Linked DNA regions of Homo sapiens. The protein of the gene in region 2 purifies or fractionates together with the protein of the main gene of each other region. This does not show direct contact. Each region holds a gene or a part of one and is shown on either strand. Other genes may lie near its edges.

The links.
Region 1: the proteins of AAGAB (region 2) and ASAH1 purify together in Homo sapiens (affinity purification with mass spectrometry; 3 studies listed by BioGRID and IntAct, with this or other methods). This does not show direct contact.
Region 3: the proteins of AAGAB (region 2) and AP1S2 purify together in Homo sapiens (affinity purification with mass spectrometry; 3 studies listed by BioGRID and IntAct, with this or other methods). This does not show direct contact.
Region 4: the proteins of AAGAB (region 2) and EDRF1 purify together in Homo sapiens (affinity purification with mass spectrometry; 3 studies listed by BioGRID and IntAct, with this or other methods). This does not show direct contact.

What each region holds. Positions count from the first base shown.
Region 1 is NC_000008.11:18,074,082-18,081,107, forward strand, and holds part of ASAH1 (acid ceramidase isoform a preproprotein), read right to left. Parts: intron 1,507-7,026; coding exon 1,460-1,506; intron 1-1,459. UniProt on the Homo sapiens protein: Lysosomal ceramidase that hydrolyzes sphingolipid ceramides into sphingosine and free fatty acids at acidic pH.
Region 2 is NC_000015.10:67,251,662-67,259,259, reverse strand, and holds the start of AAGAB (alpha- and gamma-adaptin-binding protein p34), read left to right. Parts: upstream 1-4,598; 5' UTR 4,599-4,628; coding exon 4,629-4,701; exon of another isoform or gene 4,702-4,846; intron 4,847-7,598. Other genes in the region: IQCH (IQ domain-containing protein H), read right to left, coding at 4,313-4,363. UniProt on the Homo sapiens protein: May be involved in endocytic recycling of growth factor receptors such as EGFR.
Region 3 is NC_000023.11:15,851,814-15,858,780, forward strand, and holds the start of AP1S2 (AP-1 complex subunit sigma-2), read right to left. Parts: upstream 3,001-6,967; 5' UTR 2,875-3,000; intron 712-2,874; coding exon 533-711; intron 1-532. UniProt on the Homo sapiens protein: Subunit of clathrin-associated adaptor protein complex 1 that plays a role in protein sorting in the late-Golgi/trans-Golgi network (TGN) and/or endosomes.
Region 4 is NC_000010.11:125,729,707-125,736,732, reverse strand, and holds part of EDRF1 (erythroid differentiation-related factor 1), read right to left. Parts: intron 6,462-7,026; exon of another isoform or gene 6,446-6,461; coding exon 6,334-6,445; intron 4,869-6,333; coding exon of another isoform or gene 4,808-4,868; intron 3,330-4,807; coding exon 3,182-3,329; intron 3,099-3,181; coding exon 2,990-3,098; intron 2,662-2,989; coding exon 2,550-2,661; intron 1,090-2,549; coding exon 829-1,089; intron 1-828. UniProt on the Homo sapiens protein: Transcription factor involved in erythroid differentiation. Involved in transcriptional activation of the globin gene.

The DNA.
Region 1 (7,026 bases), on a different chromosome or scaffold from region 2:
TATAGACACATGTAAAGTGCACCTAAAAGGGAGTAGAAACGGCCTCAAACATGGAAGGCACCTCATTAAATGTTCAATGAATTGGGGCAGTGAGACCAACAGAGAGACATAATCAATCAGTAAGGCAGACATGTCACTGAAGGCCAGAATGATGCCAGTGATGACAGAAAGGAAGACTTTCAGACAGCAGGCCATTGAAGAAAGAGCTGGAATGAACACTGGCCCCAAACAACATCCAAACTGGTTACCTCTAAATTGCTTCCTGCCAAATACTGGCCTCTTTCTACATAAAGGCGAGTAAGTCAAAAGAACTTAGTTTATTACAGTTTCACGCTATCTGGGACAGAGGCTATTTAAAATACATCGTTTAGACAACAACAGTACAACGTAAGTAATTTGGAATGTTGCACGAACTGAAAATGTCATCTTGATATCACTAGATAGAGTTGTACTGTTTCCCCCTACAAACAGCAGGCTACTTTCAGCGAAAGGGCAGTGTAGGAGAAAAAGATCACCACCCCCTATACCTGTTCCTTCTTTTCTCTGTTCTGTACACTCTGAGGGGTCTGTGAGCTGTTATTATGGCTTTCTCACAGGCCCATTTAAACACTGAGGATTTGGAAAGACCAAAATCTAGACTAAAAATATTAATGTTAAACACACTGAATCATGACATTGGTCCTCCTCTTAGGTGTTCCAATCCTGTTTTGTCCTCGACAGCTTTGTTGTGCCAAGGTTTATTTTGAGAACGTTTCACATATGAGGGCCTATGCTTTTTTGTTACAATATAATTTGGTGGTTTATATCCAGGCACCATAGAGAATCACAGGTCATTTCAAATACAGCCCTTACATTTGTCAAAGATGAGAAAAACCCTTCATGGTAGACAGGAGAATTGAGTGGAGAATGAAAATCCTTTCCTTTTTTTTTTTGAGACAGAGTCTCACTCTGTCGCCCAGACTGGAGTGCAGTGGTGCGATCTCGGCTCACTGCAAGCTCCGCCTCCCGGGTTCACGCCATTCTCCTGCCTCAGCCTCCAGAGTAGCTGGGACTACAGGCGCCCGCCACCACGCCTGGCTAATTTTTTGTATTTTTAGTAGAGACGGGGTTTCACTGTTAGCCAGCATGGTCTCGATCTCCTGACCTTATGATTTACCCGCCTCGGCCTCCCAAAGTGCTGGGATTACAGGCGTGAGCCACCGCGTCTGGCTGAAAATCCTTTTCTTTCCGATGATTTTGATAGTCTAGCGACGGGCATTTGAATCGGAAGATATTTTCATATTTGTCCAAGATCTCAGCCAAATGCATAATAAACAAATCTGAGAAACAAACCTCTGTCTCGGAATGGGAAACATGACTTAAGATTTTATTCACTATCGTTCGTTTATGAGCAATTATTACATACAGAAAAAACTTCACAAAGGTCAAAGGGAGTTTTGATCATCTGATGTTTACTCACGTTGGTCCTGAAGGAGGATAGGTTGATTTTCTGCAGTCCTCTGTCCACTGAAAAGCAAAGAAAATTAAGTTTCAGAAAATAACAAATGCTTGCCAACGGAATAAGCAATTTCAAAAGTAGTTAATCTGTGAAGACAACATCAAGTCTGATATTGCTCTTTTATACGTTTCAATGCCTCTTAAAATAAGTCTTTTCTTTCCAAGAAAACTTCTAAAATCCTAAACCATTAAGTGGATTTTCAGTTTCAATTCAATTTGTAAAAGTGCTAGGTGTTATAATTTGGCTCTAATATTTCAAATATATTGAGTAACGAACAAATGTAACAAAGTAGATGGAAAATATTTATGTTAGAGAGGCTGACTTAGCACTAAAAGTAAATGACCTGATAGGATGTATTATCTGCACTTACCAGCCATGTGTGTTGCAACCTGTCCTGGGATTTGCCTCCCAAACCAGATTTTCAGGGCACACAGCACAGGGCCCTTCATCATCTTTCCATGGTAACTTACCATCCCAGCCTCATCTCCTGACACTCCCCTTAGTATTTATAGCCATACGCAGGCACTTCCTATCATCTCTCACCCTTCCATGCCTGTGTCTGTGCTATTCCCTCTTGCTAGAATGCCTTTTCCCCACCTGGTGAACTGCTGGTTCTAACTTCCAAGATTCAGTTCAAGCATTTTCTTTCTTGTGAAGTCTTCATCTATCTTCCATATGAAAATATTCATACCCTCCTTTCCTCCCACAGCATTTGTGCACACTCTCATCAACATGTTTATGACACTGCTTTATAATCATCTGTTTGCGTTCCTTGTCAATACCAGACTCTGCGCTCCTTGAGGTGAGGACGGCCCCCAACACTGACGTCACTGCCTGAGACAAGGAATGAACAGACTCTTTTAGGGGAAGTTGTCCAAGCTTAGTGGCAAAATGGAACCTTCTCCTAAACTTATCAAAAAAAGTCCACACAGATTTATGATTCTTTTGTTACTCATTCAACATATCAAGTGTCTTTATCTCCTTTCCTCTGGAGAACCAGTTCTGTGAAAGTAAAATAATTGTTTTAAAAAAGTACAAATCCAAAATAAGATAAAGTAGAGTAGGTAAGAAAACTCTTGGAACTGTAGCTTGAGCTCAGAAAACTCTTGGAACTGTAGCTTGAGCTCAGAAAACTCCTGGAACTGTAGCTTGAGCTCAGAAAACTCCTGGAACTGTAGCTTGAGCACAGAAAATGTATCTGCTGGACAGCTGTGTAAGAATGGAGGTCTAGCACCTTGTTTTAACTTTTGATAACATGGGGAATATATAAAGTAGGTTGACATTACCTGTGATTCAAACATTAGCTGTCAAATTTGCCTTACCACACTGTAAGTTTCTCACATATGTCTGGCTTTGTCTGGTAATTTTGCGTTGAATTCATTAAGAAACAATATCAAGTCTGTAGCAAAAGCTAATTTCCAAAGCCATTCGTGTTCAGTAATAGTGGCTGGGGGCAGCTCGTTTAGAAAAACTTCAGTCTCAACTGTGAACTCAAAGACTGCAAAACTTTACAGCTAGCAAGCTATCTAATGGCTCTGTCACAAGAGACATCAGGATATCCGGCCTCTATTTCTGATAATTCACAGAAATGATGACGGTTATATCCACAAGAGCAAATGAAGCTCATGGTTTATATTGCCGGTTCAATAACACATGTGAGATTCCAATATTTTCCACAAAATATCTGAAAAGGAATACTATAATAAATAACCATGAGCTTTAAACACCTCGCATGTTCACAAGTTTTGTGAATTTGCTCAACTCCGCCTTTTTCTACTCACAAATATTTTTACTACTGTCAATTTTTATAGATCTTAGCAGATTCCATTCCAGGTTATACTCAATCATTATTTTCTCAGCTTCTTCGAAAACATCCTCGCCTGTAGTTGTTTTATACAGATGATTCAGAGGCTAACTCTTCAGTCACTTCAAACTTGGCAATGATCATCTAATAAATATCAACAACTGATCAGTTATCGGTATGTTGACAGTCAAGAAAAATCACTCAAAAATCACATGCTTTGTTCTTTAATTGATATTGATGTTCTTCCCAAAGTCCAGGACAAGGGTTCTCAATGACATGTAAAATAATTTCATTTTCCCTGGACACAATACTTCTGCTACTACAATCGAATACAATTTAGGTAATCCACCATTGGTAAATGGCTTTCCTTATTTTGCTAATAAATGAGCTACTTAGAGACTTATAGGGGTTGCAACTTAATTTTACTTTGTAAAATTTGTAAATAAGTTCTGCTGTGAGGAGATACTCCGCTTTACATTTTCTTGTTTATCTGACCATTGTTTTCCTATGAGTTGGGAATACTGTGATGGGTACTTAACCCAAGTGCTTAATTTTATGATCATGTTGTGGACTTAAGACCCTGCTCCATTAGTGACTTGTAGAAAGTTACACAGCTGGTGACAGAATCAGAGTCAATGGCTTTCCCTGTTCTATCAAACAGCTTCCCACAGAGATAATAAAACCAATGCCTCAATTTAATTCCTAACAGAATAATCTGCGCGTAGTTCAGGGCTTCTGGTGATCACTAGAATCAACTCGGCAAATTAAGTGAAACGTAATGACTCCTATCCCTTCCTAATAATGACATTTGCACGCCCTGGGTTCCAAAGCCAAAATAAACATCAAATTACAGGCACATTTCTTACTAGACAACTGTGAGCAAAGTTGAAAATGCTCTGTCTAGTATTAGGAGAGAATGTGACCTGCCCCAGAGGTAAGAACTAAAGAGCAAGCTAGCAACAATACATGTGGAGTGAGTCTGAGGTTGATAACGACTCTTGGTAGCAATAAACAAACGTGAAATTGGCATAGAACCTGGCTGCAAGGAAATAGGATAAGTGTGACAGAAAATAAGAAAGTTGGCAGCTATGAGACTACAGTATTTCAGGGGCTCACATGGCATGAACGCCTAAGTCGTTTATGCAAAAAGGTTAGTTTTAGGGGTAGGGTGGAAAAAAGAGCTACTTCCTCCCCCTCAAAAAAGAATTCTACAGGGAGACACAGCTTCAAAACCCACGAGTAGCCCTAAAACAGAATTATAATGAACTTACTTAATGTTATTTAAAGTTCCTTACTATCCCCAAGTTTATAAACAGTTTAATAACAGACAACTCTATTAAGGCAGGTAAAAACTTAAATAGATGATAGGTAAAGATTAGAAACAGATGATAAGAAGAGAGATTATGTGGTCTGGATGGTATACTATGTACACCCTATCACAGGAAACAAAATCCAACTTAGAATCAATTCTCTCTAACCCTCTCCCCACAGTACCTCTCTTTCTCTCTCTCTCCCTGCCCTTCCCTACCTTTCTCCCTGCCCCTCAGTGGTCTCCTAAGAGTGAAGATAAGTGGTAAAAATCTGATATTTCAATGCATTTGAAACTCTCTGGGCCAGGCATGGTGGCTCATGCCTGTAATTCCAGCACCTTGGGAGGCTGAGGTGGGTGGATCACCTGAGGTCAGGACTTCAAGACCAGCCTGGCCAACATGGCGAAATCCCCGTTACTACTAACAATGCAAAAATTAGCTGGGTGGCATGTGCCTGTAATCCTAGGTACTCGGAAGGCTGAGGTAGGAGAATTGCCTGAAGCCGGGAGGTGGAAGTTGCAGTGAGACGAGATAGTGTGACTGCACTCCAGCCTGGGAGACAGAGCAAGACTCCATCTCAGAAAAAAAAAAAAAACAAAAAACTCTCTGGAAAGTGCTTTTAAAAGACTGTTTGGGTCAGAAAATTCTCTAATTTTTCTGGTTATTTGATAGAAACTTAAGCCTCTTTGAATGTCCTCCCCATTCATTAAGAGAAATTAATTACAGAGCTACTGAACACAACATTCTAAAAAAAACACAAAAATATAAAGAGAACATTAAGGTCTCAATGAAAGCGCCATACCCTTAAAAAATGGCATAACTTGTACAGCTCCTTAAAATATTTGAGCCCGAAAGAATTAGGAGACCCTCAATGAAATAATGTATGCTTCTAATAGTGAATTTTAAAAGTCCAGAAAGCCCTTGTGTGCTTGTCTTATTGAAATACTCAGAAAGAGACAATGAAGGATAATCTAAAATTACATACCTCATGTCAGTTTTCATACCCACCAGAAGCCAAACAACTCTAGCCAGACAATTTTTCATTCATTCAATTCTTGAATTCATCAACAACTATTTTGCAGACAAGTTTTTCCTATAATGTCCTCTTATGTACAACTCAGCAGAAACACTGAATACAAAGAGGCATGTTTCCTACGTGTACAAGAATTCACATGAGCTTGAAAATGTTTTCACTTGTCTTCTGGGCTTTGATGGGATGGCATCCTATTAAGCTACTGATATTTAGGTCAAAGGAATGTGAATAAACCCTCCATGAGAGGAAGGACCTCATCTATCTCATTGGCTGACGCATTCCCAGCGTTTAGGAGTCTGGCACATAGTAGGCAAGCAGTATTTGTTGAATAAGTGAATGGATTACACCTGTGTGTTCCCTCTTTGGGAGAAGTAGGGAAAAGCAGATGAAGTGCAATAAATTCCTAGGCCAGATGGGGTCTATGAGATTTCTGGCAACTGCGTGAAAATCATTGCTAAAGCTGATTCAATAGCTAATGTCAACAATGTTGACATACGCTGTTAACTAGTATGAGAAGCTGATGCATAAAAATGAGTTTACAAGTTTACTTTGGCAATTAATTACTAAGCCATTACGTTTCATCTTCGCACATCTTATGAAGTGGGTCAGATTTATTACGCAGAGCAGCCATCTCTCCCCTCTAGTTCCTTTCCTGCCAATCACACTTAGCCTACCGCAAGCTGTTTTCTGCCCCCAACACTGCTCCAGTCGAGGTGACCAATGACCTCCAGTTGCCCAACATCATAATACCACTGACATCTCAATAATATTCAACATAGTTAACCTGTCCCAGTCTCTTCCCTGAGCTTCCTGTTCCACTTACTCTCCTATTTTTTTGTTTTTGTTTTCTGTGACGAAGTTTCGCTCATTGTCCAGGCTGGAGTGCAATGGCAGGATCTTGGCTCACTGCAACCTCTCCCTCCCAGGTTCAAGCAATTCTCCCGCCTCAGCCTCCTGAGTAGCTGGGACTACAGGCGTGAGCCACTATGCCCAGCTAATTTTTGTATTTTTAGTAGAGACAGGGTTTCTCCATGTTGGCCAGGCTAGTCTCAAACTCCTGACCTCACGTGATCTGCCCACCTTGGCCTCCCAAAGTGCTGGGATTACAGGCATGAGCCACCGCGCCCGGCCTGTCCTGTTTTAACTTTGGCAATTTCTCCTCTTCTTGACACATACATGTGCAAGTTACTTAGCCTTTGCCTAGTTCTCTTTTCTTCTCTTTCTCTATCCTATTTCTAGGTAAGTTCATCTGCTCCAAGGGCTTCAAATATAATATCATTATGCCAGTGACTCTCAGTGTCTCTCTTCTGAGTGCCAGTCCGAGTGGCCTGCTGGATGCCTCTCTGCCACCTGAAATTTAACATACACCCCAAATGAAAAC
Region 2 (7,598 bases):
TGTAGCCTCTTAGAGGCTTAGTGTTCTCATCTGTAAAATGGGAATAATAATAGCTATCTCAGAACAGTGGCAAGAATAAAATGAGTAAAAATATAAGTACTTTGTATAGTGTTAAGCACATAGGAGGGCACTGAACAAATGTTAATTCTCTTCTGAATTATAAAACCTAGTGAAACTCCTTACACTATAAGTAATACCCTGTAAATGTTAATTGAATTTACGTAAATGTTAATTGAATAACTTGCTCCCTAATCTTTCTCAAGAGTTTTTCCTTTTCTTGCTAGATATTTTCTCCTCCCCTCTTAACAACCACTCATCTGTTTGTATAATTGCAATAGAGACAAATACTATAGAAAAAGTTAACCAGACTTGGGTAGAAAAAGAGATTTGAGTTCTAAATCTCTTTCTTCAGATAGATCCAATCTACCATATTGAAATTTTACATATCATCCATCATCTCTGTGATCATCAAACACCTTGTTTTCCATAAATTTTCTACTTGGAGAAAGATTATTATTTTGACAATTTGGAGACAGAGCTACTTAATAAGAAGCCCTTGAAAGATTTAATGCAGCAAAGATTTGCTCTAGACTTTACAAGAGCCATGAAACCAGACTCTATATTGTCAAAAGCAATATAAAATTCCATTTTCTTCATCTCTGCTAGAGTTTGGCTGAGTCATTCTCATCACCTCAATTATCTTTAACTTCATTCTTTTTTTTTTTTTTGAGATGAAGTCTCACTCTTGTCCCCCAGGCTGGAGTGCAATGGCGCGATCTTGGCTCACTGCAACCTCCACCTCCCGGGTTCAAGTGATTCTCCTGCCTCAGTCTCCTGAGTAGCTGGGATTATAAGAGCATGCCACCACGCTCGGCTAATTTTTGTATTTTTAGTAGAGACGGGGTTTCACCAGGTTGTCCAGGCTGGTGTACGAACTTCTGACCTCAGGTGATTCTCCCGCCTCGGCCTCCTAAAGTGCTGGGATTACAGGCATGAGCCACCGCGCTTGGCCTTTTTTTTTTTTTGACACAGAGTCTCGCTGTGCTGCTTGCTGTGTTGGAGTGTACTGGTGCAATCTCGGCTCACTGCACCCTCCACCTCCCAGGTTCAAGTAATTCTCCTTGCCTCAGCCTCCCAAGTAGCTGGGATTACAGGTGCCTGCCACCACACCTAGCTAATTTTTGTATTTTTTAGTAGAGACGGGGTTTTGCCATGTTGGCCAGGCTGGTCTTGAATTCCTGACCTCAAGTGATTCATCCGCCTCAGCCTCCCAAAATGCTGGGATTACAGGCATGAGCCACCACGCCTGGCCAACTTCATTCATTTTTATATTGTATGCACCTGACAAATCAGACACAATCAGAAAGAATGAAAATAGCAAACTGTCAATTGAGCTCCCATATTTCCAAGATCATTGTTAACATACAATTGTTGGATTTTTGTGTTAACACACAATTGTTGGATTTTAATTAAAAAGCTAATTTTGAATCATAAGATCAGGTAATATTTGTTACACAAACATTTAATATTTGGGTCAAGCAAGTATTTATAAAGATATATTAAGAATATACCACATTTTAATGAAGCATAAAAACAAAGCTTCTAAGATTTACAAAGCATGATTGGAAACTTCCCAGAGTCACTATCACACTTCTTCAAGATTACTTCATGAACATGCCATAGCCTATTTAAGGATCAATACATACTGGATGTATTACAATGGGCAAGATGCTTTACTTCTTTGTACCTAAGTGTCTTCTGTAAACTGGAGCTAAAAAATAATACTTACAACACCTTTGAGAACCACTGGTCTAAAAAGCTGTTTAATATATCTGACTGATACACAGACGTAACTGACCATATTAGGGTGAAGCAAGTAGAAATTTAAAGTACCTCTGCTTTACAGTCTATTGCACACACACACTCACTCAGTCACTGACTTGCCAGAAACAATTTGATTGCCTAGGCTAACAACAAAGGAAGTCTACTTTTACAGTAAATGATGTAGCCTGGGGAAATTGGGACAATTTAAAGTCAGAAGTGAACCTAATCCAAACTATATGTCCTATGGAAGAGGAAAGTGAGGTCCAGAGAGATGAGTGCCTAACTCAAAGTCACTACTTGTGAGACTGTCAAAGTCATGGTCAGATCTCAGTATTCTGACTCCCTATCAAGTGCTTTCCACTAGACACACTAATTATTGGTAGCCTGTCTGAGGGAAATAAATCATAGCCCCAAATAGAAGTGGAATCCACGTTGGCACAGTTGGGTGGTGCTACATACTCACACATTCTCAGGATTCACTGAGAAAGTAGGGAAAGTCTTCCAAATTTCCTCACTATACATATTCTACATGTAGAGAATAGAATTTTATACTATACAGGAATCAGTCTTAATAATCTGGTTAACAGGTAGGCTCTCTTCCTCTACACAGCCCTTTACTTGATATGTCCACAGGAATCCTTTTAAATAAGTAGGGGTGCAGATCAACATGGATATGACTATTAGCTCTTCTGACCCATCTCACAAGTCAGTGTCAACAGTTATCTATTACTATAATGTTGTATCCTAGGTAAGAGTCTCCATTATTGTTCTAATTATTTGGAATCTATAAAAAGAGTGGGTATGTGCAGCAAAGAATTAACCTTACCCAAAGAGGGGTCCAGTCTTCGCTCCTGGCTACTGGGAGGTGATCTCTAGGCGCCTGGGATGTCCTGCCTGATAGAAGTGTCTTTGTCTGTGGGCTTTGGCCACCAGACAGTCTATCAACATGATTTATAATGGGTGTTTTGATCCACGCTGTATCAGCTCAGACCTCTGGAGCAGCGGGAAACTAAAAGTATTCAGGAGGGGCTGGAGATTAATGGTCAACCACAAGGGCAGTGTGAGATTGAGCCCCAGTAAAAACTCTGGACATCAAAGCCTCAGATAAGCTTCTCTAGTTGCAATATTCTATGCATATTGTCACATATCATGGCTGGGAGGAAGTAATGCAGGTAATGACGTCAATGACTCCACAGGGATAAGATGACCAAAAGCTCTATGTTTGTACCCCTCCTGGACTCTGTCCTATTCATCTCTTTCCTTGGCTGATTAATTTGTATGCCTTCACTATAATAAAATTGGAGATGTGAGCACAGCACTTCCCTGAGCTCTGCGAATAGTTCTAGTGAATCATTGAATGTGAGGGTGGTGATGGGGCCCCTAAGTTTGTACCCAGCTGGTCTGAAGTGAGGTGGTTCTGGGGACCCCTGAACTTGCAGGTAGTGAGTGTTGAAGTTAGGGCAGTTTTTTGTGGACCGTTCCCTCAGACTTCGCAGTTTGGCTAAACTCATTGCTGCGTGATGGTGAAAGTGAGGGTGAGAAAAGATCAGGTAAGATTAGGTATGATTCTTAATGGGGAAGTCTATGAAATTGGTGAGTTCAGGGGCTTGTATTTGGGAAAAGGTACATTTAGGGAAGTCTCTCCTAGATGGGAGGTAAGAGATCAAAATTCTGCCAGAAAAATTAGATCCCTTTGACGAGTAAGACCCACTTCAGACCAACTGAGTGACAGTCCTGACAGAGTGACCTTAGACAAATGACTTCAAGACTTAGTCAAATGCAGCTATTATATATGTGATAGTTAAAACCGATGATATATGTGGAAATATCTTAAAGTTACCTCACATAAATGTGAAAACAAAATGCCATGATCATTTCAGAAACATCTGAGTGCAACTATTACAAATTGAGCTGTATTGGACAAGACTTTCTTGACATTTCCCCTCTCAAATTAAAAAGGTCTTTCACTAAGTTTTTAAATGTCACATTTTTTCATTCCAAGTTATCTTGATTTTTCTGTGTGTTCTCCAATGAGGAACATTTAGATCTAAAAAACTGGGGTGTTTAAGAAAAGCAATTCACATATTTCAATTTGTCTCCAAATTTCTTATCACCTCCTAGAGTGTCCGATTTGTCTCTCCTCCACTCCCGACGTCATGGGTTCAAATTTTTCAGAATATAACATTTAAAAATGATGCCTCAGCGTGAGGTTAATTTTTCTGAAGTAAAGGTTCCGGGTGAACGGTTTTAGAGTTTTCCCAGAGGCAGAAAGTCCTGCTTCTGGGGCGTAACCTACAGGGTAAGTCACCGGGAGTGTGCTGGGCCGTGGGGGAAGGTCTGGGTGGGCATTTTTGGGAGCCTCTCGCGAGTTGGAGGGAGTCTAGGGGCGGCGCACCAAATGGGTGAGCGTCGGTGAATCGGCGCGCGGGACCTCGCTCGGAAGTGGCGCGGCTGGGCAGGGCAGGGCCGGGGGAAGCCCGTTTCCCACCTGGATTAAGATGGATCCGACAGGGTCGTGGTTTTCAGTGTTCTGTGCCATGGCTAGGTCAGGGAACGGCTACCTCCGCGGAGGCGCGGTTTCCAAGCACGGAAACCTTCAGCCGGAGCCGCTCGTCCCCATGGCAACACCGCGCGCGACCTGGCCTGTTCCACGCTGGGAGCGGAAGGGGGTCTAGGGGCGGGGTCAGGCCAGCCTGGTCATTCCGAGAACGCCCTCTCCGGCCTGTCTCCCCCTCGCGCCGGCGGCCGTGGTGCAGCCCAAGGCGGAAGCGGCTGCCTGACGGAACCGGCTCGCGAGCGCAGCTATGGCTGCTGGCGTACCCTGTGCGTTAGTCACCAGCTGCTCCTCCGTCTTCTCAGGAGACCAGCTGGTCCAACGTGAGTAGATAGGCGCCTGGGCCGACCTCCAAGGCCCCTGAGCCTCAGCGGGCGACGGACCCAGCACCACGGCCTCTCTGGGCCTTGTCCCCGCAGCGGGCCCTGCGTTCTTCCTCCAGTCAGTGGAGGCGCCCAGTCTCCCCAGGTGGCTGCCCCTATCTCTTAATCTCGTGCTTTTCTGCCCACTCGGCCTTCTTCGGCGTTCCTTTCGGCTTCCTGTGTAAAGTGAGACTGATTTCCCGCTCTGCTCAGCCCAGGCCACAGGTTTTTGCGAGGATCCGTTGAGATGAACCTGAAGGCTCTCCGGAAATTGCGCTAGGTTACAGGAGTGTAAGGTGCTGGAATTGTTGATATCGTGATGTTGTTATCCTTGCTGCTCCGGGAGAGAGTGTTTACTCTGAATTCTGAAGTTTATTCTGCGTATTTACTCTGAAGTTTATTCTGCTTCTTAATGTGTACATTATAAGACTTGTTAGCTTTGTCCGCTCCACTCTAGTTATTCACGCCTTTCATCTGAGGCATGGGCTCTCCGCCAACATGAGTTTTTGGGTATGATTGGGCTAGTGCTTTTGCTTGTAGACCCTCATAATGGCTGTCAGACTTACTAACTCTTAAAAGAGAGAACATGGGACTGGATAATAAGCCAACTCTACTAAAGGGCTCTGTGAAGTTGAATTATAGGTAACTCAAGACTTCTGTTTTAAGTGTATGGCTTAGAATCAGAGCAGTGACTTAGCTGTATGATCTCGAGCAAGTCACCTAACCTACCTACATTCCTTCCTTCTTTTCTTTTTTTTTTTTTAAAGAGACGGGAACTTGCTCTGTCGCCCGGGCTGGAGTGCAGTGATGCGATCATAGCTCACTTCAGCCTCGAACTCCTGGGCTCAAGCGATCCTCCTGCCTCAGTCTCCCGAGCAACTGGGACTGCAGGCTCACACCACGAACCCTGGCTAATTTTTTTATTTTTTGTAGAGCCAGAGTCTTGCTATGTTGCTCAGGCTGGTCTCCAACTCGTGGTTTCAAGTGATCCTCCTGTCTTGGCCGCCCTAAGTGCTGAGATTACAGGCGTGAGCCACTGTGCCTGGCTACCCTTCACTTTCTCTTTTCTCTCCTTTTTTTTATTTTTGTTTTGAGATAGGGTCTCACTCTGCTGCCCAGGCTGTAGTGCAGTGGCGTTATCTCGGCTCACTGCAACCTCTGCCTCCTGGGCTCAAGCCATCCCCCTACCTCAGCCTCCCAAGTATCTGGGACTACAGGTGTGTGCCACCACGCCCGGCTAATTGCCCCCCCCCCCCCCCGTCATACGGGGTTTGGCCATGTTGCCCAGGCTGGTCTGGAACTCCCGGGCTCAAGTGATCTGCCTGCCTTTGCCACCCAAAGTGCTGGGATTACAGGTGTGAGTCACCACCGCGCCCGGCCCCTTCACCTTCTATCTATAAAATAGGGATAATTTTCGCAAGATTGTGCTTATCCCCGAGTCTGGCACATAGTAAACATTTGATAAATCATAGACATTATTATTAAGGCACATTACTATCTCTGTAACCCTCAATTTCCTGATCCTTAAAATGGGGCATATGAGCCTATTTCAGGAGTATTTGAAGGACAGATGATGTGACATTTTGAACACACTTTGTAAACTGTAAAGCATTGTATAATTATAATTTCTTTGCTACACCTGTCAAATGACAGAATTAGGTAAGATGTCCCTTCAGTGCAGATATTATATGACTTAGTTATCATTTGTGATCACTTAGAAAGTTCCTTGCTAGGGTAAAAGCTTAATTATAGCATTTAACTAAGTGGTTACTAACTGGTCTAATTAGGCCATTTTCTTACCTTTAAGCAGTGCTCCTTCCTATTTTCTCCCTTCCCTCCTTTCTTCCTTCTTTTCTTCCTTCCTTCCTCTTTTTTCTTTAATTGTTTCATTGTAAAACTAGTGCATACTAAGTAAAATTTAGCATACAGAGAAAAGAAAATAGCCATAGTCTCATTACCCAACTACAAATACTGCTAACATTTCTTTCCAGTCTTTTTTTCCATTGCAGTTTCTTAAAAAGAAATAATTGTAATTACATTTAATACACAATTTTTTCTGTTTTTAAAAATTTTTTAAATACACAGTTCTTATCCTCAGATTTATCAAAAATTAGTTTCTCACATATATCCATCTAGTGAATAAACCAGAATTTGCTCAAGATTCTTAAAGATGTAACTAACTTTCCAAAAGACTTACATGCATTAGGAATCCTATTAGCGATACATGGAAGTCTTTTCAAGACAATCTCAGGAATATTAATTATTCTAAATGCTATGGTGCTCTGTTGTGTGCTTTAATGATCCCAATCGGCAAACATGGTCCCTGCCTTGAAGTAGCTGATTACCTGTAGTTAGCAAATAGTAACATTGTACTTCTGTAAAGTGTATTAGCATTATTGGGGGTAAAATTAATTCTGTAAAATAATCCATTTTATCTCTGTATATAAAATGCTCTTAGATAATTCCAGTTCGGGTTAAGATCAGATGACCTTTCCATTGCAACTCGTTACTGTCGTGTAGTAAAAAATAAAAGAAGAACAGCTAGTGAGCAGATTACTTGAATAAGGAAAAGTGAACCATAAAAGAGGGCTTATAATTTCTTCCAAGGTTGTGAATAGGGTAGCAGTGGATAGCGTTAAAATGAAGTATTTGCTGAGCATTCATTCTTTGACTATAATTAAAGCTGGGATTAAATTAATCACAGGTTGACTCTAATTTTGAGGTAAGAGATGGAGCCCGCATAATATTTTGTCAAGTGTTCGGTGATATTAGGCCGTGGAATAGTTTTGGATTGAATTGGATCTACCTTTTTGGGAAAGTTTGGTTCTACTTCATGTATCAGCGAGAGAAACCTTTAG
Region 3 (6,967 bases), on a different chromosome or scaffold from region 2:
ACTACTTACAAACACATCTCATGTATACACAAAGTTTTTAAAACATCTATGTGATTGAAATAGTCTACATAGTCAAGGTATTTACACGTGAGTAAGATTCTAAAAATCAGATAAAAGGCATGTCAAATATTAGTCATTACTTTATAGATTTTCGGGGAAAAAGAATTAGACTCTATCTGTACTTGTCTCAATTCAGAGAATTACTCACACAATTTAAAATACTGACCCTACTTTCCCCTGCAATGAAATGAATTCATTAAACTCTTCTATAAAGATGATTAAGCATGAATAATCATTTATGCCTTTAATTATATAACTAGTTTTCAAAGGATTTCCCTGCCTTTATCATTTCAGCCTCAGTAATTATCAATCAAAACACTAGTTATTTTAAAAACACAAAGCTTTACCTTAAACCTATTTCATCTAAATCTTTATTAATCGTTATTTATAAATGTCATCACTGAAGTCTGCAATTTCCTAAATGACCTAACATTTGATTCTATTTCACCTTTCTGACAAACAAAAATTATACCTTTTGTAAACAATCTTCAGATCTCGCCACTCAAGGAAGCTGCACATTTTAGGTTTCCGTGCTAAAACGGTCTGAACAAGTTCTCTTGTGATCTTTTTCTTCTCTTTGTCTGATAGTGGGACATACCATTTTTGCAGTCGAAGCTTTCCCTGACGACTAAAAAGCAACATAAACTGCATCTGTTAAGATAAATAAAATCAAGATTACATGTAATACTTTGAATCAATAAAGTTAAGATTATGTGTTTCACAGAGAAGTTTTGGGGGATGGGGCATTTACATGACAAATGATTAGTAGCCATCAATATTTCTATGCCAATTAAAATAGCAAGAAATTCTTTTGGACAGATCTTCCTCTAGATGCAAACCTTCCAATCCCACCTTGTTCCACATTAAGTTTGAAGGGGAGTGTGCAGGAGAAAAAAGAAAAATGGGTAATAAGCTGAAGTGAAATTTTTGAAGAAAAATAAAGATCACTCTTTCAATTTAAGAAACTATTTTCTACCTGTGCTATACATTGCGCACTCTCTATATGCATCAAAAGAGAATGGTAGACATCATCTGGTTTGGGTACTTTTGAAAGAAACAGAAGACCTGCTATTTTTCATCCTGAGGCCGTTCTAGTTCCAGGGTGAATTACTTGCAGACAGTAGCTTATGTCTTGGAATGTTCTCCTCAGTTTATGATGGCATATTTTAAGCAAAACAGAATGATCCAAAATATTAACTGAAAAATCCCATAAATACAAATTTTCATTAATAAAAAAGTATGTTTTCATCTGACTTTTAAAGCATTCCAACTTAAATATGTACAAAATCTAGAACTGAGTTAATGTATTATGAAAAAGAAAACAAACGTTTAAAAGGCCACAATAAGATTTACACTTATTAAATAAGATTCAGCATTGAAACATTACATGAAATACTTCATTTAAAATAAAAAATAGTATCTACAGATGGAATGGATGCTGAATTCTAGTGTGTTTTATACTTAAACTAATTTGTATGTATTTATTTGTGATCTGCAAATGTGTTGATTAGTCTGCATGTTTCATTTTTAACGCCAAGCTTTTTGTAATCCAATTGGTCATCTCAACTGCAAACAGAAGTATTGTTTCTACAAAGGTAATTTAAAGGCAGAATTCACATAGGTATCCTTTTTTCTTTTAATCACTGTTAAGTTCCTTTAACAGCGTTACTGCAAATAAGATTCAAGCATGATTCTCAAGATTCACCACACCATCTTGAATTTGAACACGGGGAGGGGAAATTTACAGAACCAATGTAGAATAAAAATGGGCCCTAAATTTCGGTAAGAAATTATCGTCGCTTTTTGTAACCACCCAAAAAGGTATCAACAAGATATCTAGAAATGTATGACGTGGCAATTCAACTTTAGTAAAGTTAAAATGGTCTTATTACCTCACTTAAAATGCGTCAGGGGAACAAAATATAAGGACATTATTAGGTGATACCAAAGTGCCTCCCGTGCAAGTCCTGAAGATAGCGGCATTCGAAGGGGGCAGGAAGTGAAGCATCAACTGGGCATTTACTGCAAACCCGTTACCAGAACTTGGAAAAGAATGGACCTCGTATTCCTAGATCTTGGTGACCAGAAAGGGTGAGGGTTTGCCTGCGAAGAGTATGGGCTCAAGGCTGTCTGGAGCAGGGTCCTGTATCCGCCCTACCACTTTGCAGGACGAAAAAACAATGTATTCTCCTTAAAATAAATTATGTCCTAACATGGGACGAAACCCGGTTGCAAAGCACGAGTATTCCTTCCCTCGTGTTAAAAACCAACGCTTTGATTTTGCCGCAAATCACAGGGCACCACAATTCCTCGAGACTGGCATTAAAAACAATGGGCTCAGCCGCGGCGCGGGCTCGGGGCCAGCGTTCCTCGGGTCCGGCCGTCGCCGGTGCCTCCCCCCCACTCCCGTGGCCACACTCCATCACTGACCAAGCCCGGGAGAGGTGACAGGCAAGGAGCGGAGCAGACAATGGCATCCGCCGCCGCGCAGGGGGCGCCAAGAGTCCTCGGCCGCCACCGCCCCCGGCCCCTCCCGAAAGCGCCCCGCAAAACTTGAGGCGATTCCCGAACCACAGGTGCCGCGAGGCTGTCGCGGAGCCCGGGACTGGCCCCCACATCCCCGGGCGCGGCGCGGAGTGGTGCGGAGGGCGCGGACACGGAGAGAAGTGAGTTGCGGGCGCGGCGACCCAGTGGCGGGCCGGGCAGGCTCGGGGTGGGGTCGTCGGGGCGCGCGCGGGGTGGCGGGGGGCGCGCCCAGTCCTCCCTCCCCCTCTCCCCCATCCCCGGCGCCCCCTTTCGCCCCCAGGGACTTACGGCGGCCGCGGGCCGCGGGCGCGGCGGAGCTTGGCCGGCGGCGGCGGCGGCGGCGAAGGGGAAGCCCCTGTCGCCGTGCTGAGGAAGAGAAGCCGTGGTGCTGTGGGGAGGACACCCGGCTGGCATAGGGCAGGCTTAGGCGGAGAGGGGAGGGCAAGCTGACAGACCCCGCCCCGGGGGCCGGACGAGGGAGGAGCCGGGGCTGCGGCGAGCTGAGGGGCGGGCTAGGCGACGCGCGGGAAGCGGCTCAGCGGTCGCCAGCGGCACCGGAGGCAGCGCGGGTAACCGCTGAGTCCAAGGCAGCCGATTGGAGGTTTCTTCGCTGAGGGGAGGTGCGAACCGGAAGCCGGGCCACGTGACCCGGAAGCGGCGTTTGCCGGGCCCGAGCGCCCGCGCGCCCGCGCGCTCTTGCAGGTGCCTCCGGGACGCGCGCGGGCGGCTGTCCTGCTTGTTTAATGATAGGAGGACGGGATTCTGCAGCGTCCTTAGCCTAGCGGGTGGTGCGGGGCAGGGAAGTTCCGGACAGCGAAGAGCCACGTTCGAGCTCTAATGATTCTCTGTGTCCCCAGAGAGGAAGTGTGAAGTGTGACGGCTGACGAGGAGGGTGGGAGGAGACGAGGGAGTGCTGCAACTCTGGAAAAACAAGTCAGCTCTTCTGTGGAGCTCGTCACGCATTCACGGGCCTTTTGCTATCATTCTGCCTCAAAATTGTCCGGAATCCGCCCTCTCCTTCCCATTGCACTGCTCCAGCCCTAGCCCAGACACCTTCCGCCCCGAGCTTCGCGGGAGTCTGTTCCCTGGGCTCGCCTCGCCCATCCTCGGTGCTGCGGACTGGATGAGTTACCGTCCGTTCGGCTGAAAAGCCCGGACAGCACCTCACCTTCGAGATCCCGCTTCCTTCACACTGGGTCGCCCCACCAGCCGCCTGGGTTCCAGTTTAGCACTGCCGACGACTTGCTGTGCCTGGCATGTCCTTGCTCCCAAATGTCACATCTATGAAGCCTCACCCTAAAACCCTGTAAGAGCGATTCCCTCTTTCACCCACATGCCCGTTAGCCTTTATTTAGCACACCTTAAATTGTATTCATTTTGCATCTCAATCTAGTTCACAGCCTGGTATATAACAACTAATAAATGTGAGTTGACTGATAAAGACTATAAAATGATAAATTTGTTAAGAGCTGTAATGCTGAGCGTAATGCCTGGGCATAATGGATGTTCATAATTTTCTGAATGATAGAATGGATGAATCATCTAGTCATTTACAGATAAGGAAAGGGGAGTCCCACGGGATTAGGTGACCTTCCTTGAAGAGCCACGGGTTTCCCATATCGAAATGCTATTCATTACCCGAGTCACCTAGGTTCTTACAAAGGAAGCGAGAAAATTGCTTTTGTTGGGCCATGCCCCTTTTGCAGAGGTTCCTAAGTATAGTCGCCAGAATTTTTTTAATGGCCTAAAGTAAAAAAAGAAATGCTAAAATTTTCACGAAGCTAAATGTAATCAATGTAAAGGAATCCTTTATTAGGGATTATATTCTTTTTGTGTACATTATAGTATCTATGAAACTAAGACAGTAGTTTTGGGGGCTTTTAAAAAATGCTTTTGTATGACAAAACAAAAAGAAATGTGTAATACTTCCCCTTTTCAAGCACTACTGTGCTGCTTGGAAAGTTTCCTACTAACATGTATGATTAATGTATACTGGAATATTAAAGAAAGGGGACGACACACGGCACAGAGCTGGCTTTCTGTAGTTCTTTAGGTCCCCCTCGCCCCCACCAGATTTCTCCCTACCTAGTCATGCCCCAAAGGTGCTTTCGAATGTCCCATTTCTCTCTTACTACAAGAAACAGATGCCATTAACCAGTTAAAAGATAGCTCTAATGCTACACAATGAAAACTCGCCCTCTGAATCCAAATGCTGCTTTTCTCTTTTTCTGTACAAAACACTTATATCCTGAAGGTTCCTGAGATAGCCACTTCCAAGTTTAAACTCTGATTATGCTCCTAATGTTGCTCTGAAAATGAGGACGGGAGACTTGCTGATGACATACTGGCAGTCTCCTTTCCTGCTCCTAGCCAAAAAAAGGTGGGGGTAGGGGTAGGGAGGGGAAGGAATTGTGGGAAAAATAATTAGCAGCTGAAAGCAGCTATTACATAATCTTGGCTGCTTATTAATTTAGCAGAAGGAATGGCTTATTAAATTCTAATAGCAACAGCACAACTGCAAACAACCTAGCAATTAACAGTGCAGGGCCCATTATTTTGTTAATATGTTCTCTTCTTTTGGCAAGTGTATGAGAACAAAATTTATAGAAGCAGATGGTCTTTTTCAATAGATTATAGATGGTTTATTCCCTAGTCTTAGTATTAAGTGCTAATTATGCATTCACTGTGAAAGACAAAAGAAACATGGTTGCCATCTTTGTTAGTAATTAACTGCTTGACTTTGATTCCCACAATTTCCCAATTGTAGGCTTTGTTATATACATGTTTCTTCTCACCTAGTGTCTTCTTCATCCGTCATGTCAATTGGTTATCTTTTTTAATCCTGTTTTTGTTTTCTAGATGGTCCTGATTTATTGGTGTTAATATTGATACAAGAATTATATACAAAATTCGTTTCATGAAAAACTAAAAATCAGATTTTATACTTGTTTCTTAAATTTGAAAAAAATGCTTCACTGTCATTTATGCTAAATGTAAGAGGTGAGGGGAAAATAGAAATCTTTACCTTCTAACGATAAAATTTTGAGACTTTTTATGTAATCTTTCCAAAGTTTTCAAAAATAATTTTAGTTTCCTATTAAATGTGTGATGGCCATATACTTTTATCCTCTCACTGTCTCAAAATACCATTAATTTTTTTTAAAGGGACTATTTAAAACACATACCCACGTGGAAAATAAGAGAGGGAACATTTACATGAGGATGTCGATAAGGATGTCAGGATACACTGTCAGCTCATCATTTAAACACTGATGATTTAAAGAAAAATTGTCATATATTGATATTATGGAGGAGCAGAAGTGAGGGAAGGTTGAAATAATGCTAAATCCTCATGTGCTAAAGGGAAGAAAATAGATAACATCTAAAATAAATCACGAACTAGAATTATTAGCATATTCTTTCGATACCAGGAAGTAAATCCCAGAAGCAATGGTGAATTTCTTTCCATGGACAGAATCTTGCAGTAGGATGTAATAAAGGGTATTATTACATTTTACTTAGGTTTTTTCTTAAATAATTTTTTAAAATATTGTAAGGAGGTAGATAAAAACCATTCCATTAGTTGCTAGCTCTGTATTATGGACTTATACAGAGTTCCTTTAGCCAGTCTATAGATTATTTAGAAATTATTAAATAAAAATGCCCAATAATGGAATTCAGTGCTGAAGCCTTGTAGATCACAGAAAGTGTAAAAAAGATGTTTAGAGTTTGTGAATTTGCATCTCCAAAGATAAAGTTGTTCCAGGGAGAAAAATGGCCTAAAATAATGAGGATTTGTGAACCAAATCATTTCAAAATAGATAGAGCTGTCACTGCCAAAGTCCTCAACAATGAGCTAAAGAGAAATGTGGAACATATGCTCTTTCTCGAAGCCTGTTTCCATAGCTTTGAATAAAATGCAGGAAAATTACTACTGCCCTATGAACATTAGGATAGAGCAGTGATTCTCAGCCTGGGCACTTTTGCCTCCCAGGGGACACTTGTCAGTGTCTGGAGACATTTTGGTTGTCACAACTAGGAGTAGTAGGTGATGCTGCCAGCATCTAGTGGGCAGAGACCAGGGATGCTGCCCAGCATCCTGCAACATACAAGAGAGATCCCATAGCAAAGAATGATCCAGCCCCAAATGTCACTAGTGCCAAGGTTCAGGAAGAAATCCTGGGTTAGTCACTGAAAATATTAACATGCAGTAGCATATTTTTATAGACATTTCAAGAAATGGAACAAACATTATCTTCATATAAGTTTCTCTCTCTCTCTCCCTCTCTTTCTCTCTCTCTCCTCCCTCTCCCTCTCTCTCCCTCTCTTTCTTTCTCAGAGTTGGAGCCATTATTCTTAATATCTGCTAGATAAAATCCTT
Region 4 (7,026 bases), on a different chromosome or scaffold from region 2:
CATAATCTTGATGCTTTTGAGAGAAAAAAAACCCAGCATGGCCACGGCAAACCAATGGAGCAAGTGAAGGTCAGAAAGATGGTCAATGTTTTAAGGTGACAGACATAGCCCCTCAAAAACTTGCTTAGAGTTTCCATCTGAAAGTTACACTCAGTGCTTAAATTAAGAGATTATCTGTAAATACGACTGTATTTCAGTTCAGGGAACAGCCAGAACTCTTAAGGCTGGCCTGGATCTAATCATAGGGAGACGGTATGTTGAAAGGTATATACTGCCTGGAGATACACTGATGGTAGAGTCAGTGCAATCCACACAGGGAGAAATCTGTCTGGCCCTCTCCAGGGCAGAGACATGTCCAATACAACAGACATGACCACAAGAGTCACGAAAAAAGTACTGTCCTATATAGCACAGGGATAATGTACCAGAGCTCACCATATACAGTTCCAAGAGCCACCCCCTTCTCTACTCTATGTTCACCAAGCAATCTATATATGTCATTTCCCAGCAACCCCAACACCGGATAGAAGTGCCCTAGTAATGAGACATGACTATGACTACACACTGGTCACTGGAAAGGAAAATCCTTCACATAAGAATAGACAGACACCTGGTTTACACACCTGTCCACTATAGGCTTGCATAATGTGGGTCAGTTACCCTCGAACAATTATAAAACCAACTTTAAGAATTCAGAAAACTAATGATTACTAGATGCTAGACCATGAAAGGTTTATTGAAGTAATGGTATCTTTTGAAAGGCTAACTATATTCGATTAACAATTATGTTTCCTTGATAAAAATTTAATATAAATTCTAAAGGCTTACTCTGATTTGATGAATAGATTTGTATTTTTCTGGTACTGATAGTTCTCCAACAGACTTGATTATAGCTACTGCTTTGCTATCATCTGATGGATCAGAGCTGGTGCTATAGGATCCATTTTCATCACTGTCGGGCATCTCTTCCTCCTCTTCACTATAACTTTCATCAGAATTCTCATTTAAAGGAGATTCTGAATTTTCTTCCTTTTTAGGTTCATCCAATTGAAAAAGTTCTGAAAGCATGTAATTGGCGGAAGCAATAATCTTATGAAAAAGAGAGAAATATGTGTAAATTACTGTCATCAAAAAATACATGAATTTTACTACCATACTAACGAATTTTAGGAGGAGGTCTGCACACAGGCTGTTTCCACCATATAGACTGTAACACACACAGAAATGTTCCCAGTTCAAAGCTACTGATACTCTGGGTATGCTCTGCAAAATCTTTATAGGCTGATGCATTTCCTATTTCCCGAAATTACTCCACCCTGAGCCCTCCCTCTTAAAAGGTGTCAACTGAATTTCACTGGAGACAAACAAAAGCTTTTGAGTACAGAGTGTCATAACTAAAATATTAACAAAAATTTAATACCACCCTATGCCAAGTGAGAAACCAGAATTTTTCTTTACAAACTATAAATTAATTCAAGTTTCTCTATAATAGGTAACTAATATTTATCATATAATCTATGGTTCTAGAAAAAAAAAACCATTACATTAAAAAGGGAAAAGTCCATTCTGATATCTCTTAAAATTAGCATTTATATATGACCATTTAACCCATTCTACTATTTATCAGTTCTTAATCACAGACAATAGTCTTTAACACCATTTCTAACATCCAAATAAACCACTCAAGTTCCACTAAACACTGCCACCTCAGTCAGCAATTAGGTATTTCAGTCAGAAACAAAATGTTTTACTATTTTTCTTCAAAAACATTTCTGAGTTTGGTCTCTAGGATAATCTTTATCTCTAAATCAAATGTGGCTACAATTAAAATTACTTTGGCTCTTCAAAGAAAAATTGCGTATCTTACATACCTTTACTGATTTGAACAGGATACAACAAATAGCCTTAACAGTGAAAAATAAAGTTGTCAATCAGACAACCGAGGGTAAGGATGGTGTAAAACTGTTGGGAGCATGACTGAGGGAATATTTTAAGAGATGCTTTTTCCCCTTCTCTTTAAAAGAAATTTTACTGGCCTTTATTTAAGAGATGCTTTAATATCCTGAAGTGTGGAATGTGAACCCTATTTATATTAACAAAGTGGTAACAAGGTCTAATAGCGACAAAACAAAGAACTAAGGGCACTACTGTTAGAATTACATGAATTCTAAATTCATTGAGCAGTGCTGTCTGAGAGAAATGTAACATGAGTCACATACAGAAATTTTAAATTTTCTAGTAGCTACATTTAAAAAGTAGAATCTGTGAAATCAACTTAAATATATTTAATCCAATATATGTAATATTGCATTTCAACATGTAATAGGTACAGACATCCAATCTTCAAAATTCAGTGTGTATTTTACACTTACAGCACATGTCAATTCAGACAAAGCACATTTTAAGTGATCAACAGCCACATGTGCTAATGGCTACCACACTGAATAGGGCAGTTACGGAATATGAATCAGGAGGCTTTACTGTCTAGGTAACAATCTCCTATTAGAATGCTAGGATTGTTTTAGAGAATACATAAATGTTAATCTTACTTGAGGATGCCTACTTTTGTCCAGTAATTTCAGACAATTAAGAAGCAATGTTCTAATAGTTCCATAGTGTTTCTTATTTTGATTCTTCTTCATCATCATGTTGCAAGCAACCCTAAAAAAAGAGTTTATATCAACTTTACTGCCCATTTCATCGTTGTCTGCAAGACTCAAGTCTAGGAGTGCTCTTGTTTCTTTCCAACAAAGAGCTATAAGAAACAACAAAATACTAAACTTTACACTTTACCCACAACCCCCAAAACGTTTATACTATGGTGGCATAAGAAAGCTGAGTAATATTTGGTACAATGTGTACGTGTATTTTTCCCCCTACTATGAAAACCTAAAAGCATTTAAAAGCCTTGGTTTGGAAACTGTGACTGTATGCTTTAAAACTTTATATAATAGGCTACTTCTTCATCTTAAATTCTTAAAGCACTCACTTGTACAAGAGAATGGCTACCGGCATTGTGAATGGATTTTGGTATTTGTCTTCAGTTTCTTCACAAAGAGTAGTGAGGTCATAGAGCTTCACTATATCGCTGCCACTTGCTGAAAAGAAAAACAAAGAAGACTCATTTCACAGCAGTTACCCAAATCAATTATTGTTCACTCAAGAAGTATTAATAGCTTACCTTTAAAGAGCCAATAGGTATGTCCTTCTTTGGTACAATTAGATTTCAAAAATGATAAAATATTCTGTGCAATGTCTTTTATGACTTTAGTAGAAAAATTAGAATTTTCCAAATTGGGAATTTCTTCTGTCTTTATCATTTCATATTTCTGTAAAATACAGACAGATGGAAAGCAGTTTAAGAGAAAACCCAAGGAAACAACACCTTTCTTTTTAAAAAGCAACCAAATGCAGAAGTCCTGCAAACAGAGACCTATGTAGCATGAAAGTGTTTAAACCAGTGGTTTTTAATCTTTTTTCTGCCCCAGCCTCCCAAAGGAATCTCATCCACCCCATCAGCAAGGGCAGTTCACTATTGGAGTAATTTCAATGGAGAATCACTACCAGATTTAGAACCTCAGATTCAGGCATGATCTTATTTCTGTTCTAACATGGAACAAATCATACTGACTACTTTTATTCCACTTGAATGGTTTTCAACTGGGAAGATGGTAAATGAAGGTAGGCTTTACCCAGCAAGATTTTAAAACACATGTATTTCTGGCCTTTTTTTTTGCTAGAAACTACAGTCAGTGACTCAAGGAGAGAGAATCATTTAGGAAATTTTCCAGTAGACACCTCTCTTCCCTTCATCTATGGACTTTATTACTTCACAGGGATGGAGCAGGGGGGAATGGAGGTGGCAATAAGAGTAAAGGCTTCATGGACATTACTACCACTATTTTAAAAGTGCCTTTGCATTTTTCTTGTTTATCTTCTGTGCACACTCTCCTAACCATCTCCTACCACATTTTCTGAAGTACTCTAAAACTGGAAACTTCAAATCAACTGGAATGTAAGACCAAACACAATCGTCTGAGGTTGATTTTCACCCCACTTTGTTCATGTGAAGTCCCCAATGTTGATTATTTCCTTCCTTAAAATGCTCCTTTCCTGTATTTTAATCTGTGCTATTCTTGTTCTCCTTCTCTCTCTCTAAATGCCCTTCTATTTTTACCCCTATGAGGAGAGGCTCCAATGTCTGATTTTAATAGATTCCTCTGGTGATGAAATCTGACAGTATCTAGGCAGATGATGCTTCAATTTATTTCTCTAATGGCTGCAACTTCAAAATGCTCACTAGACATTTTTATACTTTCCTCAAACTGAACATGTGACAAAAACATATTACCTTCCCTGTCTAAACCAATTCAACATCCTTATCTCACTAAATGGCACCACCATTATTCTAGTCCCTAAACCCTGGAATCTCCTTTGACTCCTGTTCCCCTCCGCCTTGCTAACGCTTTATCTGCCTCTCTCTTTTCTCTTGCTCCCCACTCCCACCCCAGCCTCTCACTAAATGTTGCCATTTAGGGAGATGGTCTAACAGTGGTTTTCAATCAAGACTGCAAACCAGAATCATACAGCAGACTTTCAGAAAAGACAGAAGTACACATCCTACTGATACTAGAACACTGGGGGCCCAAGCAAGTGCATTTTTTCAGAGACCACAAGTGATTCTGATGCACAACCAGGTTAAGAATCACTGGGTTGGAATATAACGGTTCAAAGCATGTCCTCAGCCAGAGAGAGGCACAAAGACTGGCACCGCCACTCACTACTAAGTTGACCCTGGGCAACTCACTTGAGCTCCTTGATCCTCAGTCTCTCTTTCCATCAAATAGGAATAACAGCATGTGAGGTAGCTAAGAAGATCAAATAAGGTAAAGCATTTAAAGCATTCAGCAAAGTGCTTGGATAAAATAAGCACTCAATAAATGCTATCTATTCTTACCATTGTTGATTCTTAATAGTTCCTCTCTAGTGGAAAGTACATTACACTATCTGCAAAATGGTACAATGCCTCTGGTTTTCTTGTCTCTAAGTCCTCCTTTTCTGTCCTATATGCTATCTCTAAATTAATATTCTAACACAACAAATTTCCCCTCCTAGATGCAAAGCCTTCTGATTCCAGATTACCAACTGAACCAAGTCCATACTCCTTAGCTCAACATTTAAGATCTCCATCATTTGACCATGACTTTTCCAACCTTACTTGCAGCTATTCTGCTACATAAATCCTGTGTTCCCTAGCTGGATTTATTATCAATCCTTTCATGTATTTACACTAGACTTTTAAAATCCAGCTCTTATTTTTTGAGATACTAGCTATCATTCAGGACTCAGTTAAGATGTCCCTTCTTCCACAAAGTCTTTCCTCCAGACCTGAATGGAAGTGCTCACCCCCTTCTCTGATGATCTAGATTTCTGTGTGCTACACTTCTAATTCTTATCTGTCTCCTACTGTTCTCTCTGCATATTATTTCCCATTAGATTATCTCTTTCTGAATAACAACCAAGCTTATTCTTTGTTTTCCTTCAACAATTATTTATTGTTTAAATTCTCAATTTTTTTATTTTTTTGAGACAGGGTCTTGCTCTGTCACTCATACTGGAGTGCAGTGGCACGATCATAGCTCACTGCAGCCTCAAACTCCTGGGCTCAAGTGATCCTCCTGCTTCAAGCCCCCAAGTAGCTGGGACTACAGACATGTACCACCATGCCCAACTAAGTGTGTGCGTTGTTTTTCTACAATTAGGGTCTCACTACGTTGCCCAGGTTGGTCTTGAACTCTCGGCTTCAAGTGATCCTGCTGCCTCAGTCTCCTGAGTAGCTTGGGATTACAGGAATAAGCCAACACGCCTAGCTTCCCCCAACACTTATAATGGGGATACGTGTCTTCTAAACAGAATATGCTCAATAAGAATTTGCTATATAAGCTATCCACCATATGCAATTTTTACAAGACCTTTCCCTAAAACTTTGCATGTACTGAGTAGATATTTGCATAACGAAGAAACGCCTCCATTGTGTAGACACTTTCAGTTAATTATTAATGAGAGCTTGGCATTAAAATTAGAGTTCTATGGCTACAAATGCAGGTTTTCATATATTTATGAACTTCCTCCAAATTACCTGTAAAATTATACTTCTATAACATCTACAATTCTGTTATCACCAACTTAAATGTACACTCAAATTCAGTTTATTCACAGCTATCTTCCCTGGCAAAAATGCACCTTAGTACTTCAGGGCCGTAAAGACTTTGGTGAGGAACTCTCTGTACCAATTTGCATTTGAGAGATCAGAAAAATCACACTGTATCTTACCTGTACAATTCCATTTACATGAAAACACATCACAAGCTCTGGCACATTGCATATCAAGTTGTCCAACCAATAGTCAATTCCAGTTAGCACATTAATTGGTTTGTTGTTATCCCTAAAAATATACATTTCTAGTGTTATTTGGTTTAATTAAGATGTTCCTTAATTAATCATCTGAAAGTTATTTCACCATTTAAGTATCTTAAGCTGTCCTCTCTAGATAGAAAATGCCATCTATGCTTTCTTTTCTGATAAGATATGCACATGCAGCTCAGTGGTTGTGCTATATTTAACATCTTTCCAAAAGCTTGCTTGTATTTCTAACTGACATTGGTAAGTTTTCAGTAAGAATAGAAGACAATATAATAGGAAAGGACGGTGAGCCTACTGCCTGCTCCTCACACACAACTTGAAGAAAGACTGAACACCATACAAGACCATGCTTAAGTTGGAATTCACATTGGCTAATATCAACAAATACACGTGGAGCATTAAGAAAAATGCTCACAAGTAGTTAGTAGGAATCTAACTAATTAAATAAACTCTCTTGAATATTCTCACAAGTTGTAGATTCAGACCTAAGACTAGGCCAGTCCAACAAACCTCTGGCTCTATTCAATGAGGTCTAGAATGAAGACTCAGCTATAGGCCTGCCTTTCAGCATCTGCTGACAGTAGCTCCTTCCTTAATGTGGCC